Homo sapiens: one gene and its partners. The protein of the gene in region 1 interacts with the protein of each later gene in a biochemical or structural test. Each region holds a gene or a part of one and is shown on either strand. Other genes may lie near its edges.

What was found.
Region 2: the proteins of CD36 (region 1) and SCRG1 form a complex in vitro, tested with the Homo sapiens proteins (one large-scale study listed by BioGRID).
Region 3: the proteins of CD36 (region 1) and VWC2L form a complex in vitro, tested with the Homo sapiens proteins (one large-scale study listed by BioGRID).

The regions. Positions count from the first base shown.
Region 1 is NC_000007.14:80,666,111-80,669,768, reverse strand, and holds part of CD36 (platelet glycoprotein 4), read right to left. Parts: intron 3,327-3,658; coding exon 3,280-3,326; intron 1-3,279.
Region 2 is NC_000004.12:173,392,537-173,396,194, forward strand, and holds part of SCRG1 (scrapie-responsive protein 1 precursor), read right to left. Parts: intron 635-3,658; exon of another isoform or gene 521-634; intron 1-520.
Region 3 is NC_000002.12:214,409,771-214,413,998, forward strand, and holds the start of VWC2L (von Willebrand factor C domain-containing protein 2-like isoform 1 precursor), read left to right. Parts: upstream 1-1,283; 5' UTR 1,284-2,016; intron 2,017-4,228. Other genes in the region: SPAG16 (sperm-associated antigen 16 protein), read left to right, coding at 370-545.

The DNA of each region.
Region 1 (3,658 bases):
GCCCAGCACTTTGGAAGGCCAAGGCGGGTGGATCACCTGAGGTCAGGGGTTTGAGACCAGCCTGGCCTACATGGTGAAACCCCATCTCTACTAAAAATACACAAAATTAGCTGGGTGTGGTGGTAGGCGCTTGTAATCCCAGCTACTTGGGAGGCAGCTATCCTGAGGCAGGATAGGCCTGCCTCAGCTATCCTGAGATAGGCGCTCGTAATCCCAGCTATCCTGAGGCAGGATAATTGCTTGCACCCAGGAGGCGGATACTGCAGTGAGCCAAGATCATGCCATTGCACTCCAGCCTGGGCGACAAGTGGAAAACTTTGTCTCAAACAAAACAAAACTATATTTAACTTATTAATATCCAAAATATTTTAACATGTAACCATTATAAAATATTTTAAATTCTTAAAGTCTCAAAATCTACTGTGCATTTTATATTTACAGCACATTTCAAATCATACTAGCCAGATTTTGAGTCCTTAACAGTTACATATGGCTGGCGGCTGCTATTGTCAACAACAAATCTACATACTATACATATTTAATGGTACAAAATAAAAGAAACTTAAACATGAAATGTTAAGGCTAACATTGTGTTTGTTTTTTGAAATGCCCTACCCCACCAGTAGAGTGGCACTTTTCTTCCAGTGAAGTTCATTTGGATCTCCTGCCATGTCCACATTTATTTGTAGTGATTTTTTTTCTCATTTGTCCTAATGGCTGATTACTACTTCTAAAAATATTTACTAAAGTTCTCTCACTAAACAGAACTTCAAATGCTTTGAAAGTGTATAAAAAAGTCATTTATTGAATTTACTTTTTGCTACAGCTATGATCCATGGCAAACATTGGATATATGAAGAAATAGTTAACTCCTCCATGTACTTCTCACATGAATATCACTAATACGAGCCGTCATTGAATGAGTTTTAAATGGTAAGTCTCATCTTTGATTATGCATTGTAGGTTCTTTCTCTGGCAAGTGTGTCAACCTTGTGACCTTGTTTTCATTAGTTTACACTCTTGTGACAAGTAAAATATAAGCCCCCATATGGACATTGACAACAACTGCTTTTCCATTTCCTTAATAATTAAAGAAAAATGCATTGAAAAGCTTTTAAGATCATTATCTAAAATATCATTGAAGATTATGTCCTAATTATACCCAGCAACTACCATGGACAATGACTGCAACATAGTTGATATTTGCAGAGCTTTTTTTCTGTCCTCCCAAAAGAAACATTCTAAATGTATACCAATACTTTCATTTTAAGTCTTTTCAAACTTACTGAAGAAGGTAAAGAGGATGCACTTCTAAATTACGATGAAAACACATTAGAACCTTACTGTTTTATTACTTTCTTTTCGCTAGTGCCATAAGCAAGAATCTCTCTCACAGGGATCATCCCCTGCTCTGTCCAAATTCCCTCTTTTCCTAGTTTGTATCAGCCCTATTTTCCCCATAGATATTTTTAACATCATGCCTGATGCTCATGCATTTCTATTATTGTCAATGAATCTTCTTTTTAAAGATTTTTCTCCTTAAAGAATCCTTTACTAGGATTAACACAGTATATTTATCTCTGCATCTAAGGACTAAGTATTCCGCTTATACAACTACTAGCATTGGTAGTATTGAGGACTTGAAAATTTATTTCCAGAAATGCTTTACTTAGAAAATAGCTTATTTGCCCACTCCTATGGCTCAAAACCCTGCAAAGCCTTGGCCAGGTGTGGTGGCTCAAGCCTGTAATCCCAGCACTTTGGGAGGCCGAGGGGGGCGGATCACAAGGTCAAGAGATCAAGACCATCCTGGCCAACATGGTGAAACCGTCTCTACTAAAAATACAAAAATTAGCTGGGTGTGGTGGCACATGCCTGTAGTCCCAACTACTCATGAGATTGAGGTAGGAGAATCACTTGAACCCCAGGAGGCAGAGGTTGCAGTGAGCCGAGATCGCACCACTGCACTCCAGCCTGGCAACAGAGCCAGACTATGTCTCAAAAAAAAAAAAAAAAAAAAACAAAAGAAAACCCCTGCAAATCCAACAGTGTTTTTGCTGTTTTTTTTGTTTGCTTTTTTTGTTTATCATTTCCTACAAGGCAATGATAGAATCAAGTACGCATACGAAGTCAATAATCATACCTTTGGCAAAGTAAACATTCTCTGTACTTCATTTTTACTTAAGTGTCTTTATCTTTGTTATATCATTTTCCTATGGGATATTCCCTAATTTTCTAAACTTCATGCTTTTGTTTCCTAGTAGTTGAAAGCTTGCCTCTGGATATTAATTACTTCATGGTATTCGATTCCCACCACTTTTTTTTTTTTTTTTTTTTTTGAGACAGGGTCTCACACTATTGCCCAGGCTAGAGTGCAGAGGCACAATTATAGCTCACTGCAGCCTCCACCTCCTGGAATCAAGTGATCCTCCTGCCTCAGCCTCCCAAGTAGCCGGAACTAAAAGCGTGTGCCAGCACACCCAGCTAATATTTGTATTTTTTTTGTAGAGATGGGATTTTGCTATGTTGCCCAGGCTGGTCTCAACCTCCGGGGCACAAGTAGTCTACCTGCCTTGGTCTCCCAAAGTGCTGGGATTATAGACATGAGCCACTGTGACCAGCCTCCCATTGCTTTTTAAAAATCTTAATTCTTAAACTAATAGGCATATCTGTACTTTGCTTTTCCTGAAGGAGAATAAGCCTGATCTAACCATACCTTAAATCTAAGTTTATGAATGCTCATTTTTTACATATATTTTTCACAGTTAAGAAGACATCTGACTTTGTTATTGTTTTCTCTCTCATTCTGACCACCTTATCCAAAAATGGATGGTTCTGTCTTGCAACTTTATTCTATCTCAGCTATAAGCCTTGCTTAGATATGTTTTCTATTTTGTAATTAGCTTTTTTTAATTCTTTCAATTCTAACTTATCTGTATACTATTTATAAAATATTTGAAATGTAACTAAAGTGTTTTGTGTTGTTGTTTGTTTTTTACCATTTACTTCTGTTGCCAGGATGGCAGTAAAGTTTTTACAAAGCAAACATTTCTCTGAATCATGCAGTAAGGGCTAATTTTTTATGATTAATCTTTACAAATCCCATCACATTGAACAGACCTTTAGCCTATATACAAATAGTGACTCTGAATTTTGTTGTGGGGATATAAAGGCAAGTAAACACACACCCTCAACTTTCAGAACACTGTCAGTACAACGGTGGATTTGTGGGAAAGGGAGGTGGATTAACTGTGATGACCACAAAACAAATATTCTTACCTGTACCATTAATCATGTCGCAGTGACTTTCCCAATAGGACAGATTCCTAGGAATAGAAAAAGACAATGAATAAACATTCTTATTTAAAGAATACCTTTCTTACATTACTTTTTCTATTATAATTCAATACTTCTGTTAATATGATGCATTTAAATGTGACAAGTACTAAGTTTAAGAAATGTTCAATTCTGTTTATGTTTTGTTTGAACCTTTTATCTTATTGCAATGTACCTGATGCCATTAGGTAGCCAGATCATAAAATAAAAACTGCCAGGTGTTAATTAGAAACATCTTGGAATAAGAAAAAAATTAAAAACATTTATCAGAAACTTAGATCTCTACTTAGGGGAAATTTTTTTTTTTCCAATGGGATACATG
Region 2 (3,658 bases), on another chromosome or scaffold:
GGAGATAATTTTTCAAGTACAGGATTTGCATAGAAGTATAGAATATTAAATATCTATCTAATTAGACTTCTCTGGTTTCTACATTAGATGTGAAGAAAATGGAGACTATTGTAGTAAAGGAAGAATAGCAAAATAGTGGAGGAACCAGGATTAGAATCCAGAGCCATTCAGATTTTATCTTGTTAACAGGTGCCAAAGTATCTTTCCTTCCTTGGAAAGAGGGAAAACAGATGGAGGACATTGTACTTGGAAAGAAAACAATATTGTGGAATAGCCAGACGTGGTGGCTCACACCTGTAATCCCAGCACTTTGGGAGGCCAAACCCGGCAGATCACCTGAGGTCAGGAGTTTGAAACCAGCCTGCCCAACATGGCAAAACCCTGTCTCTACTAAAAATACAAAAAGTAGCCAGGCATGGTGGCATGCGCCTGTAATCCCAGCTACTTGGGAGGCTGAGGCATGACAATGGCTTGAACCTGGGAGACAGAGGTTGCAGTGAGCAGAGATCAAGCCACTGCACTCCACCCTGCATGACAGAGCGAGACTCCGTCTCGAAAAAAAAAAAAAAGAAAGCAATATTGTGCAATGGACATTTTTGGTATAAAGTTTTTAGTGATTAGGTATCTTTTAAAGGTAAGTCATTTTAGATAAGATAATGGATTTTTAAATAAATACATTTATTGCTTTTTTCCCTTTAGATTAGAAACAAAGTATTTCTTCATACTCCTAAGAGTTTCAGAGTTTCTTTGTCTCACATTCTAATTTGAGTTAGCCATTTTTGGCTTTGGCTATATATTTCCTTAGAATTATCAATATCCAATTTAATTCCTACCTCCAAACATTAGTGAAAGAAAAGACTAAAATGAGATCTACCTCATTTTATATATTTTCAGATTTAATGGACTAAGACATTGCAGTGTTACAGTGCATCACAATCCAGCATATATAAATGATATCTTCCAATGGGCTTTTTGTAGGTCATGGTTTAAGTGACCTAATATGTGATCTATCATGGAGAATTTTCTGTATGTACTTGAGAAGAATGTATATTCTTCTGCTGTTTAACTGAACATTCTGTATATGTCTGTTAGGTCCATTTGGTCTACACTGGTGTTGAAGTCCACTCTTTCTTTGTTGATTTTCTGTCTGGTTATTCTAACCATTACTAAAAGTGGAGTATTGCAGTTTCCTACTATTATTGTGTTGCTATTTCTCATTTTAGTTCTGTCAATATTTGTTTTATATATATATATGTGCTCTGATATTGAGTGTGTATATATTTATAATTGTTATAGCTTCCTGGTGGGTTGACCCTTTCATCATTATACTTTCTTCTTTGTCTCTTGTGACAGTTTTCTACTTATAGTCTATTTTGTCAGATATGAAATAGTCCACTCTGCTTTCTTTTAGTTACCATATGCATGGAGTATCTTTTTTCATTTCTTTACTTTCAGCTTGTGTGTGTCCTTAAATGTTAAGTAAGTCATTTGTAGAAATCATATAGTTATATATTGTTTTTTTTTCTTTCTGCTACCCTAAGTCTTTTGATTGGAGAGTTTAATCCATTTACATGTAAAGTAATTATTGATAGGGAAGAATTTACTATTGCCGTTTAGCTTATTGTTTCTAGTTGTCTTGTAATTAGTTCTTTGGTGCTTTTCCCCCCTGCCTTGTCTTCCTTTGTGTTTTGTTGGTTGTGTTTTTCTTTTTCTTCTTCTTCTTCTTTTTTTTTCCGATATGCTTTGATTCCTTTCTCTTTTGTGTAAACTGCTATAGGTATTTCCATTGTGGTTACCATGAGGCTTACATAAAATATTTTATAATTGGCCAGGCGCAGTGGCTCACACCTGTAATCCCAGCACTTTGGGAGGCCGAGGCAGGCAGATCACGAGGTCAGGAGATCGAGACCATCCTGGCTAACACGGTGAAACCCTGTCTCTACTAAAAATACAAAAAATTAGCCGGGCGTGGTGGCGAGCGCCTGTAGTCCCAGCTACTTGGGAGGATGAGGCAGGAGAATCACTTGAACCCAGGAGGCAGAGATTGTAGTGAGCCGAGATCTGTGCCACTGCACCTGAGTCTGGGTGACAGAGAGAGACTCCGTCTCAAAAAAAAAATTATAATTATAAGTCTGTTTTGAGGTAATAACAACTTAACTTCAATCACATACAAAAACTCTACACTTTTAATTCTCTCTCACCACACTATGTTATTTGATGTCACAATTTACATCTATTTATATTGTGTATCCATAAACATATTTTAAATTATAGTTATTTTAATACTTTTGTCTTTCAACTTTTATGCTAGAATCAAATGGAATTCAACCACCACCATTTTAGTAATATAGTAGTCAGTATTTGTATATACACTTATCTTTATCAATGAGTTTCATATTTTCTTATGCTATTTTGTTGCATTTAACAATAAAGATGTATAGAGTATTTCCTTATAATTAAAAAGAAATCTTTTTCTTCCATTATGGTCTTTCTATATGTTGCTCTCTCTACCAGGAATGTTCTTTTTTGGGCTAGTTTTTTGAGTTTTAGGTCTCAGTTTAAATGTCATTCCTTCAATGGCCTTTCAGTCTAAGGTAGTTTCAACTTTGTTCTTTCATAGCGCCCTTTCTTTTCCTTAATGATATTTATCACAATTTAAATGATATATTTGTGAATTTACTCATTTTATGTCTGTCATTCTCATTAGACCGAAGGCTCCATGACAACAATTTATTTTGTTCACTACCATACACCAGTGGCTAATACAATGCTTGGCCCATATTTGAAAATGAATGATTTTCCAAAAACACATTTTTTATTCTAGGCAAGAGCCTATAGAGGTCTTATGTTGTCTAAAAGAATATATGGACTTCTTGGGCTAACCTAAGGCCTTCCTTTCACTTTGTCTCCATGCCTATCATTTATTCCTGTTCAGCTAGCCGGGCAGTCAAGCCAGTCATCTCTTTAATCCTATGTATGTGTCTCTGCCTTGTTGTTCCTTCTCACCCCTTCCCTTGATATTAATTTCTGACCAAAGCATCCATGAAGGACAAACCTCACACTCATATCTTCTAAGAATCCTTCCCTGATTTCAGACAATACTACTCTCATAGCTCCCTTGCTCTATGTTCCCAAAGCACTTATATATAATCTGGCCTACAAGAACTGTGAATTTGAGTAAATAATGCCTTGTCATTGTCAGCATTTTTATAAGCTGGTTAACCATTTGGAGAATATGACTACAATTGGATATGGGGAGTGGGAAATTCATAGAGCTGATTAATTATTTAGTGAATTGGTTATTATGTGAATTTACCTACAGCCAAGAAGGAAGATTGGGAACAATCATAAAGGGCCTAGAAGATATGATAAAGAGTTTAGATTTTATTGAGTATATTAAGAAGCCATTGGAAGATTTTGACAGAACAGTAGCATGATCTGATTTATGCCTTTTTAAAAAAATCCCTGGCTGGCCTGTGAAGATGTATTGTGGTGGGACAAGATTGGAAATAGAAGAAAACAGGCTTTTGGTGAGAACTGATGGGATATATGAAGCAAGAGGGAAAGAATCAAGGATGACTCTTGGGCTTTTGGCTTGAATGGTGTTGTCATTTGTTGAACTGAGGAAGAATTGGAAGGAGCCAATTTTGGGGGGAAT
Region 3 (4,228 bases), on another chromosome or scaffold:
TCTAACATATAATTTATTTGAAAAAGAAAGTTGCCTTGCATAGTTGCTTTCAATCTCATCTCCTCGAAATGCTTTATTAATCACAAATATAAAAGAATAGTAGGATGTTTGATGAAATCTGCATATAAAGGAGGTAGACCATTAGGCTCTATGTCCCAATTAGAAAATTTTATAACCTAATTATTGATGTGTCTTAATTTTGACTCAACTTATTTCTTATACCTACAGGAGCTACTGCATATTTAATAACTGACCCCTAACACAGAATGATAATTGAAAAAAATAGAATGCTTCATTGCTTATAAACTGTGAACACTTGAAATAAAACTTTGATTCATTCTCTCTCTCTCTCCTCTCTGTCTCCCTCAGGTCGAGTTTTAGCTCAGGCAAGTGGCAATGGTGTTATCCATTTGCTAGATCTTAAATCTGGGGAGATTCACAAATTGATGGGCCACGAAAACGAGGCACACACGGTTGTGTTTTCTCACGACGGGGAGATTCTCTTTTCTGGAGGCTCTGACGGCACAGTTCGAACGTGGTCTTGACCGTCAGCACATCCCGCTGCAGAGGGCATTCCCTTTAAGGCTTGAAAATGCCTCCTGTAGTCCCAAACCAGCAAAGAACTGGTTAAATGTGCCAGCAGGTAACATTTACAGTCTGCTTTAAAACATGCTTTGGACATATATTTTAGTGCTCATACTGTTACTAATAAAAAAATAACTTTATGCTCACCCATTTGTGTCAGGGTCTTTTTTCTCTCTCATTTTGATAAGAATTTAGAGACACGGCATCTTTGCTAGGGGTTTTGAAAGAAACAGCTTTACAATGACGCCTAATGACAGACTAGATGAATTACAGGAGATTGATTTTTAATGTTAGAGAACAAACTGCAGGAAAACCTGGCTACTTTAAAAAAAAAAAAAAAAAATCAGATCCAAGCTGCAGGAAGACCTGAAGTTTAATCATGCAGCACCAGGGAAGTCTTTCTGCCACCAAAGGGTCAAATAGAATCGACAAGCATACGTTTTCACAGATTGTTTGACAATGATTATGCTTTATCTATTAATAATAATTGGGGACTGCAGATGGCTTAAATCTAAATGCAAGCCTCTTCTGGAACTTTCATCTCTGCAGCCCATCCAAGAACGCGTTAGGTATACAATTTTATACAAAAAAAATTAATTGCAATTTCAATGCAAATAAATATCTCGCACGTAGAATGTCTTTACCCCTCCTAATGCGCGCATCCGCTGTATAAAGTGCGACTGCTTGGAGAGCACTCTAGCCTCGTCTAAAGCAGCTCTGGGATTTCGACAGAGCTGGGCTCAGAAGCCAGTTGTTGGCGCTGTCCGTGGTGCTGAGGAATTCCCGGCTGCCGGCAGAATGAGCTCCAAATCAGCAATCTGCAAACTGCTCTTACTGATGCAGAAACCCAGCTAAAGTTGCTCCTTTCCTTCACATCCACAGTTAGTATTTTCCGGTGTGTAAGAGGGGATTCAAGCAACACACTGTGGACGATGGTGATGGTATTGCCAGCGGAGTGGGCTTTAAGCTACAGCATGCTGTTGCTGTTTGTGATCCTCAGAGCCTAGCCAAATCACCTCTACTGCCGTAGCAAACACTGTGTAAGTGAACTCATGTGTGGAGGAGGCGTAATCAGCCGGGAAATTTCATAGAAGGATCTAAGAAAATGCTAAAAATAAGTTCAACATGATTCTGCTACTGGGGTCTGGATTTCTACAGGACCAGCTTTGCTTCTTGCTTTGAATTCTGAAGACAGGTCCAAAGCAAATTTCTTATATGTGTCTGCTGTGTTTCTTTCTGGAAGGGCGGGAGACTGCTTCTTTACTGTGTTTTGAAATGGGAGGTAGAGAGAATGGATTGCCTTTAATTCATGCCTAAAAAATGTATTCTTTGGGTAATTAAAGAGGAACTGCTTTCTTAAAACATACCTGACCTTTTAGTTCATTTTGGGCTGTGACCCCTACCACCACCATTAACCTCCAGAGTGATTAGGTAAGTGTATCTTATGACATGAATTATGTTTGTTTTCTCAAAGAAATAGATGCAGTCATTTTAAATCATCTGTAGCAATATGGGGAGGGGGGGAAAATTAAGCTGGGAAGTGATCCTCAGTTTAGCAGTGTTTGCTTTCTTTTTAAAAATCTTCAGATAAACATTACATTTGATTTATCCCATGTTTCTTCTCTTAAATAGTATCTTAAATTGTACTAGGGCAGCTCAATTATGAAGGCTTTTTTTTAAAAAAAAAATAGCCTAAGAACTTTGTTATATTGAAAATAAAATCTTGTTTTTTACCATGCAGATTTTAAGATATATTTCATATAATAAAAACATATTTAATGTTTATATAAAGTAGATATTACATTCCTATTTTTACCTCTAAGTTTACATTTACCATAACCTAACACATTAATGCCTACCTGTGGCTTACAAAGAGATCATTTTCTGCCTATGTCCCTTTGAAGCAGAATCATATGTGTATTTTATATGGCTTATCTTGCATGCATTGACAGATATTGCTGGAATATTATAAGGAAGCACAGTAGCTTTCTTTTCCTCCAAGATAAACTTTCTAAATATGTGATGTATAAATGCTTGCTTTAATTAGTAAATTATATTTATGCTTTTTCAGAAGCTTCTGTTATGTTTGTTATCTCTGTAGTAATTTGAGAGAAAAAAATGCTTTGTCAAAGGGAGCTTCCAGATTCTCAAGTAGAATTATAGGTTTGCATTTTCTTGTTCTGTCATGACTTATTATTTTTGACATATTTTATAAGAAATCATCGGCTTTATTACCTACCCAAAGGGAATTCTAATATCAGAGGATATCAGAGTAATTCTGATATCAGCTTTCTCCAGAAAGAGGGCATACTACCTTCCATTTTACTATTACTAGAACTTGTATATCTACCTTAAAATGCAAATATAATAGTTTATGAAGTTTCCTAATGTCATCTTTATCTTGTTATCGTCTGTATATGTTAGACTGAAAAGAGATGGTTTATCATTGCTCTTAATATAATCTGAAAATAAACCAATGTATAACATTTATAACTGACCTGAAAATGTCCTGTATACCATCTTAGTGTTATTGGCATGAAGCCAATAGCATTTAAATAAAAAAATGAGCTATTTGACAATACTTTTTCTTATTTATTACTCCCTAAAGTCACAGTCTCCCCAGAGCCTCTGTGTGATTTAGTTATTCTAAATATTTAAATAAGAGCCCACTCCCAACACTTCACATCAAGCACCAATACTAAGTGGAGTTTACAAGAGTCAGTGTCACAAAATTAATAAGGCATATTTTCTATGAATGGTTAACACTTAATTACAGTTTTAAGCAACTTCCATAAAGAATTTTATGCTGGCATCTTTGTGCAGATTTTGTACATGTAAATATTTTTGACATTTCAAGAGTTATGTTTTCAAGATCTCATAAATTGTATTTATATTATATTGCAAATTTTAATTTAAATAATATTACATATATACTAGATTCAAGTTACTGTGAAGTAAATTTATAGATAGATCTTTCCTGCCCACTAGGAGCTTCCTTCCTATGTAAAATAATGTGGACAATAATACAAATAAATTTGTTTTTAACAAACTCTTTTAAGCACATGGAATTCTCTTGTATTATTTATTATTTCAAATTTTCTTTCTCTTAATCACTATGGAATAGTTATGTTGTTTTTGTTATCAACTTTATTTCAAAAATCCAGACTCACATTCACTTAAACAGGTAACTGATGTTGACGCCATTGTTGTTCTTTAATTATGGGCATAAATAAGTAGGAAATCCTTTATAGTAGCTCCTTCCTAAATATAATTTATATTCAACTGTTGGTTTATTCCCTTTCCTTTAGAATTAGATTTTTTTCTCACTAATCTCTTGAGTTGACACAGATAATTATAACATATGTTCCATCACTGACTAGTCCAGTTTAAAGAATAATAGAAAATGTGAGTTCAAATATTCTTGAGCTATTTGTAAGTTACTCCTTGGATCACATTTTGGGGCTCAGTAAAACCATTTCTTTGCAATTTAGATAAAGCCAGACCTATGAAATTCAGAAGGAAAATTCAAGCTGAAGGTTCCTATATAAAATAATCCAAAAGGACAAATTTTAATGCATATATTGCCAAGTATCAACTCTCCAAACCTCACAATAAGGCACAGATAGTTGCATGAACTTAGTCT